Linked DNA regions of Homo sapiens: region 1 is reported to be linked to region 2. Evidence: microRNA targets listed by miRTarBase, many of them from high-throughput screens and not tested one by one. Region 2 holds a microRNA gene; the other region holds the end of a gene's coding sequence.

Evidence for each region. Region 2 holds the annotated microRNA hsa-miR-4743-5p (UGGCCGGAUGGGACAGGAGGCAU, at 1,722-1,744, opposite strand). A microRNA usually pairs through its seed, bases 2 to 8, with sites in the 3' UTR of a target mRNA and lowers its output. Matches are read on the target gene's strand: a 7mer-m8 pairs with bases 2 to 8, a 7mer-A1 pairs with bases 2 to 7 and ends in A, and an 8mer does both.
Region 1: the mRNA of SH3BP4 is a reported target of hsa-miR-4743-5p. Seed matches in the 3' UTR shown: 7mer-A1 at 1,089-1,095.

What each region holds. Positions count from the first base shown.
Region 1 is chr2:235,053,165-235,056,574 of GRCh38, forward strand. It overlaps SH3BP4 (SH3 domain binding protein 4), which reads left to right. Exons shown (of 6, transcript NM_014521.3): 6 at 428-2,550. The coding sequence ends at 652. Among named protein-coding and RNA genes, the nearest start is that of SH3BP4, 100 kb to the left of the region's middle. RefSeq lists an enhancer at 1-72 and a silencer at 2,701-2,995.
Region 2 is chr18:48,668,936-48,672,345 of GRCh38, reverse strand. It overlaps MIR4743 (microRNA 4743), which reads right to left and starts at 1,746; the gene lies at 1,678-1,746. It overlaps CTIF (cap binding complex dependent translation initiation factor), which reads right to left. Exons shown (of 12, transcript NM_014772.3): 6 at 1,602-1,677.

The DNA of each region.
Region 1 (3,410 bases), not on the chromosome of region 2:
TCCTTTGTGTTCTCGCATGTTTGTGGAGGGCACCCTAGTAAGCTTCCTGGAAGACGGTTCAGGCTTGCAAGATCCAGGAAGCAGGAAGTCCCAAGGACAAAGCTGTCTTTTATGAATGGGATGAATTTCCAAACAAATGGCACAGAGAGAAAGTGCCATAAAGATTGTAAGGAAAGAGAAGTCCTTTCTGTTTATTCATTTGTTGCGCACCTACTCTTGCACAAAGCCCTGCTTTTCCCTCTGGAATGTGCTGACCCTGGCCCCGAGATGGTTCCACTGTTTCTTCTGTGGGCTTGTCTCACTCGTGAAAGAGTGTCCCAAATAGTGACTACTGAAGCTGCACCAAGTAATAGGAACAAATCTCGTTCTGTCTCCTAATCTTTCTTCCTCTCTCCCTCCTTTTGTTTTTTACAACTCCACCTCCCAGGCCATGTGGAAGCCTGCGTATGACTTCTTACTCACCTGGAGCCATCAGATCGGGGACAGCTACCGGGATGTCATCCAGGAGCTGCACCTGGGCCTGGACAAGATGAAAAACCCCATCACCAAGCGCTGGAAGCACCTCACTGGGACTCTGATCTTGGTGAACTCCCTGGACGTTCTGAGAGCAGCCGCCTTCAGCCCTGCGGACCAGGACGACTTCGTGATTTGAATGGGTCCCCTCCCCTCCTGCTGCTCTGGAGTGCAAGCCCTCTTCTGCCCTGCGTGCCCTGCTGTCACCGCGGAGCTGAAGAGGGAGGAAGGGGCGGCTGCTCAGACAGATTTAGGGCCCGCCAGCTAGGCTACACCCATCATGCGCCGCCCTCCTCCATCGAGGGAGAGGCCTGAAGGGACTGCCTACTGCAGCTCGTTGCCAATCACATAGCTTTCTATTTGTTAAGTATAAATTTAAATTTAAAATCACTTTTTTAACGAATGGGGGGAAGGGATCTATGAGAAAGGTGGTATCTAATTTTTTTATGGACCATAAAGGTTTAAAAGAAAATAGGGGCACAGGCTGTTGAGGTTTTTATGTTGTTATAGACCTTTTTAAATTATGTTAGAGATGTATATAGGTATTTAAAGGTCACTGGGAGCGTTTCTGATTCCCGGCCACACTTTGCATTTCAACACTCAGCCCGGAAAGATGCTCGTTCGGTTGTTGGACCTCTTTCACTCCCTGCGTGTAAGAAGGTGAATCACGTGGGAAAAAGTGGCTTTTCAGTAAACGGGTACAGCTCATTCTTTCTGAGAAGGCCCCAGGTCCTGCTCCCTCCTCGGATTTGATTGTCTTCCGTGCTTTGCCTCACTCGTAGTAAATGACCATCCATAGAATATGTGAATCTTTGGTGAGCTTCAGTGGGCAGAGTGAAGTCCCGCATTAGCATTTAGGTGCCCTGAGCTGTTTCTGCCAATAGATTAGAAAGCAGCCATGAGTTGACAGTCTTTAGGGCCCCTGCCAGTGTGCAATTAGTCATTGACAAGAACAATGCCATTTGAGAGTGAGGTGGTCCCTGCTGCTACGAGGCCATTGTACTGTTTTTTCCTTGAGGTCAAAGCAGTGCTTCCCATAGAGTTTGCTGCCTCTTCTGTGGACAGGAAGAAAACTTCATGACCGAATCAGAGCCTTGGTGGCCACTGACTCTCGTGCTTATTGCAGATGCTGTGGTTGGCCTCACAAGCAACGCCTTATGCTGATGTGCAGAGGTGCCAGCTGCCATTTGCCAAACTCTGCATTTCATTTCATCTAAGGCTTAACCCCTCTTCCTTCCTGGTGTACCTGTGTCTCCTCGGAAGGAAGTCATAGTTTAGATGAAACCATTTTTTGTACAATGTAAAGATCATCTGAGCAAGATGAGCATTTTGTAAAAATGAAAATGTGACTCACATAAAATCAGGAACTTGACACAGTGTTGCATTAATAACTTTAGGGTGCAGACATGCTGTGTGAATCTCACAATGCGTCGTAGATGTCGCGTGTTGGAAGGGAGCAGGAGGAAGGACTGATACTGGCAAATCAGTAGAGTGAGGTGATCCTTAGCAACGTGCCAGGACACTTCCTGTGTGCCTGCAGTTGTCAGGGACCATTTGGGATCCCGAATCTCATTCTCTAAAACTGCTTTCTTGAAACATGTTACTTCCTTAGTATAATCAATGTATACTCCCTTACTGGCCTGAAACGTTGTATAGCTACTTATTCAGATACTGAAGACCAACGGACTGAAAAAAAGAACAAACATTAGCTATTTTATGCTGCAAGAACCAGGACACACAATTCGCCAATCATCCCACCATATAACCTTCGATTGTGCTTCTCAACTCCACCCCATAATTTCTCCCAGAGACCATCTATCACCTTTTCCCCAAAGAAGAAACAAAACCAGTTGCACCTTAAACCATGGATATTTTTTCCTCAGGGGCTTTAAATAGTTTCCTATGCAACGTGTCTTGTAGCACAAATAAAATTCTACAAAAGTTGCAGTAAATTTTATTTGGATATTTTAACCTGTTAAGTGTGTGTGTGTTTTCTGTACCCAACCAGACTTTAAATAAAACAAACATGAAACCTAATGTACGTATTTATACATACACCAATGGCTGCCTCCCCAAAATAGTCACCCCTAGATGACAGTAGGACAGCTGGTGTGGCAGGTGTCTATTTTCTTGCTATTCATTTAATTTGCTCTTGAAACACGAGTCACTCAGTCACCACTAACCAAATGGGAATTGGTGTTATACCAGGCACCCAAAGGAAAGCACATCGATGACTTGCTGTTTTCTGGGTCCCATGAATTGGCAACCCCAGTCCCGAAATAGAAAGTTTAGGATGGAGTCATTTCTGTGTGTCAGGTGTCAGCCTTGAAGTGCTGATTGTGGCAAACAAGGGCAGACCGTGCTTTAGGAAGACCGTGTTGTGGGGGAGAAAGGAGTGAAGGACTCCTAATGGAGACCAGCTCCACCTGGAGGTAGGGGGAGGAATGGGGCTAATGGAAATCTTTCTTGGGAACATGACTTTGATGAAAGGCTTGAAGGCTGAGTGGGAGCCAGCTAGACCACCAACAGACCAGCCCTGGGGACCAGTGTGTCGGCAGCATCGACGACACGGTACGTGGGGCAAGGAGAGGCTAAACCCTCCACGTGGCTGGGACTTGTGGAGTGAGCACAAGCCCTCTGTTACCTGGATGCTTTCCACCGCTTGTACCTGTGTTAATTCCACCATGCATCACCTACCAGCTGGGTCCTCATACCCATTTTGCAGTTAAGGACAGGGCTCAATGTGGTCCCATAATTTACACAGCCAATAAGAGAGGCAGGGACCTTAACTCAGGACTGCCGTAACAAAGTGCCCTGCATGGCTAAGGACAACAGAAATGTGTGCTGTCACCGTTTTTGAGGCCAGATGTCTGAAATCAAGGTATCACATGGTCGCT
Region 2 (3,410 bases):
AAGAGTTGTCCCCACCACATATGCTAATAGCTAGGCCAGCTGACCCTCAGGACCCAAGGCCAGACGAGTGAACCAGCCAGCCCTATTTATGAGGGGCTTTGAAGAACACTAGGAAAACTCAGATAAGTCATCCCATTGTGCTCTCACAGGACCGCAAATTCCTCAAACACCAAAAGTCTGTGTTTGGGGATCAAGAAGCCTGTCTACCTTGTCCTAAGGGTACCCATGTGAATTGTAGATACTCCAAGGAGCAGTCAAGCCAGGAGCATTATCAGCCAGGACTTTAAGTTTTCAACTCTTGCTGATAATCAGAATTTCCTACAATGCTTTAAAAATGCAGATTCTAGCTGGACACAGTGGCTTATTAAAAAAGCCCACAATGACCTTCGAGAGATAAAAACTACAATGTCTGAAATGAAAAATATACTGAATGGGATTAACAGTAGATTTGACACTGGAATAAAATATTAGTGAACTTGAAGAAATAGCAATAAAAGCTATCCAAAATGAAACACAGAGAGTAAAGAAAGACTTTAAAAAATCAGGCAGAGCTTTGGTGAGCCATGGGAAAAGATGAAGAAGCATAGAATACATACAATTGGAACCCCAGGGTTGAGGGAAAGTAGGAGGAATCGTGGCTGAAAATTTTCCAAATTTGATGAAACTATAAACCTACAGATCCAAGAAACTCAATAAATCCCAAGTGGGAGAAACATGAAGAAAACCACCACACCAAGGCACATCATAATCAAATAGATGAGGTCTTAACTGTATGCTCTATTGTCTCTCATTGATAGGCCCAAGGCATGAACAGAGAAGAAACAAAATGGCAAAGGCACCAGGAAGAGATGAATGGATATAGATAAAATAGCAGGAGAAGAATCAGGAGAGAAGGGAAGGGTGGCACAGTGGAGTGTGGTGGTAGGTCATGGTCACTGGCAGCGGCAGACTCAGTCACTGTGGAAGGTCCACTGCTTTTACACCCCTGCAGCAGGCCCAGTCACACTCCTGAGAGCAGCTAGACTCCTGCTGTTTCCACCAAAAGTCCAGCACTATAAGTATCTAGAGACCTGGATTCACTGAGTGAATCCTCTTTGTCCTGGAACCTGGCCTGATTCCAGGAAAGAGGCCCAATCAATAAAAAAAAGAGCAAGCATAGCAGACACCTGGAGGCCAGCAGGGCAAGTCCACTGTTCAAAAGCCTAAAGACAGCCCCAGCCACATTAGAATCTCTTCCAGGCCTGCCAGTCCCACCTGAACACACCACAGGACACTTCACCTGCAGAGAGGTTTCAGGCCAAGGGACAAAAACTTCCAAGTTCACTGAGTTGCCAGGGCATGGTCTATTTCATCTCTAGGGCACATCAGGCCTGCCAGCAGGGCCTGCAGCATCACCGAGTAGGCTGTCACACACACGATCACAATGGGACACCCTGGAGAATGGCAGGTAGCCAGCCCTGCCTATTACTACCATACAGGCGGTTACACTCCTTGCTGGAACAAGCAGCCAGAAGGAGTGCTTTGGTTAGGTCCTGTCCAGGAAGAGGATCAGGACTCCAGGGGTGGGGGTGGGCTGTTAGAGAGCCTGCCCCTGCACCTACCTGCCAGGCTGGAAGGACCTTCTCGATGTCATTCAGGTTGATGCCATCCCCATCTTCCAGCTTCCCTTTGCCACACCTGGACCAGAAAAGACAGAAAGGCATTGGAAAGATGGCTCATTCATGCCTCCTGTCCCATCCGGCCAGCAGGAGAGGAGGGACAGTCAGCAGATACCTGGTGCTGCCCACCCTCAAGCCCTGCAGGGGCTGTCCCACCTAGAGGAAACAGCCCTAGAGAAGCTGTGTGTGTGTGGGGGGGGGGTCCTCCCGTAATGCAACAGCCAACCTGGAGGGAGGTGGGAGAGGAACCAGAGTTCCCCTTGCTCCTTCCAGGCAGAGAAGCTAAGCTCCTTACTCATCACAACTCCTGTCAAAGCCCATCCACCTTGCCCCATTACACTGAACAGAAGATCAGTGGACAGAGACACCAAGCAACTTTCTCAAGGTCACATAGGCTGGCAGGGGCTAGCAGAAAACCCAATAGGGCTTCCTTCCTTTTTGGCTTGACTCTGGGTCAGTCCAGCAAGCCCACTCAGATAGTCTATGCTTTGTCTTCATGTCCTCTGTGAGTGGGCGTGCCCTCGGGCCAGAGAGGCTGGCCCCAACTCCCTGGCCAGAGGTCTGAATCTTTGGCATATTTAAGGGTGCAGATTCCGAAACCAGACTCCCAGGGTTTGAATCCCCGCTGCATCCCTTACCAACTGGGGACCCTGTACAAGTTGTTTAACCTCTCTGTACTCATTTCATCAAATGAGTTTCCTCATTTGTTAAATGAGGATAATAGTGTCTAACATCTTAAGGTGGCTGGAGGATTAAATTAATGAATGTATCTGGAGTGCTTAGATGCTTAGAACTGTGACAGCCCACAGTAAACGGTACATATATACACACATATATAGTCTAGCTTATATATATATATATATATATATATATATATATATATATATATATATAAATGTTTAGCTTGTTTGTTTATAAATGTGTGTGTGTATATTTCTTGTGTATGTATTATTATCTGTATTTACCATTAAATATATCTTAAACATACACACATATGTTTAATGGTAAATACTGGTAATAATAACAAAATTAAAATAAATAATGAAGTAAATATATTGCTACTACTATGACTACTTTCATTACCACTAATATTGTTGCTGTTGTTTAGGCAAAGAGGCAGGAGGGTGATTAATTAAGGACACAGATTCTGGAGCCAACCCAGCCTCATGCAAATTACTCAATTTCTGGGTCTCCTAGTTGCTTCATCTATTGAAGAGAAGATGGTAACAGTTCCTCCCTCTCTGGGTGGTGGCGAGTTTTAAATAAATGAGGCAAACACTTAGAACAGAGGCTGGAGCATGGCCGGTGCATAGTAAGTATTGTCAGTTACTATTATTACTGGTATTGACTGAGGAATGGTGAGAGATGTCCCATGAGTTGGGTCATTTTCCAGCTGCAGAGTTCATACGAATCTCACCTTTCAGAGTAACTAGTTCATTGTTTAAACATTTACCAAGCATCTCTTCTGTTTTGGGCCTTGTGAACCAAAAAAAAAATCAGTTTTGGTTCCTGCCCTCAGACAGTGGATGGCCCTTAGAACAAATCCTAAACTCCTCTAACAGGGCTGGGTGCCGGAGCACCACTGGGGGCAGCACGAGATCGGTGTCATAAAAGTCCTATGGCCAGAGGCGCCCTGGAACCCAGAGGAGGAGAAACTAGCTGCAAACACCAGCAAAGGCCTGGGTGGAAGAGAACAGGGGGCTAACCCAAGCCCCATTTGATGGCTCATTTCTCCATTCACCAAACACTTCT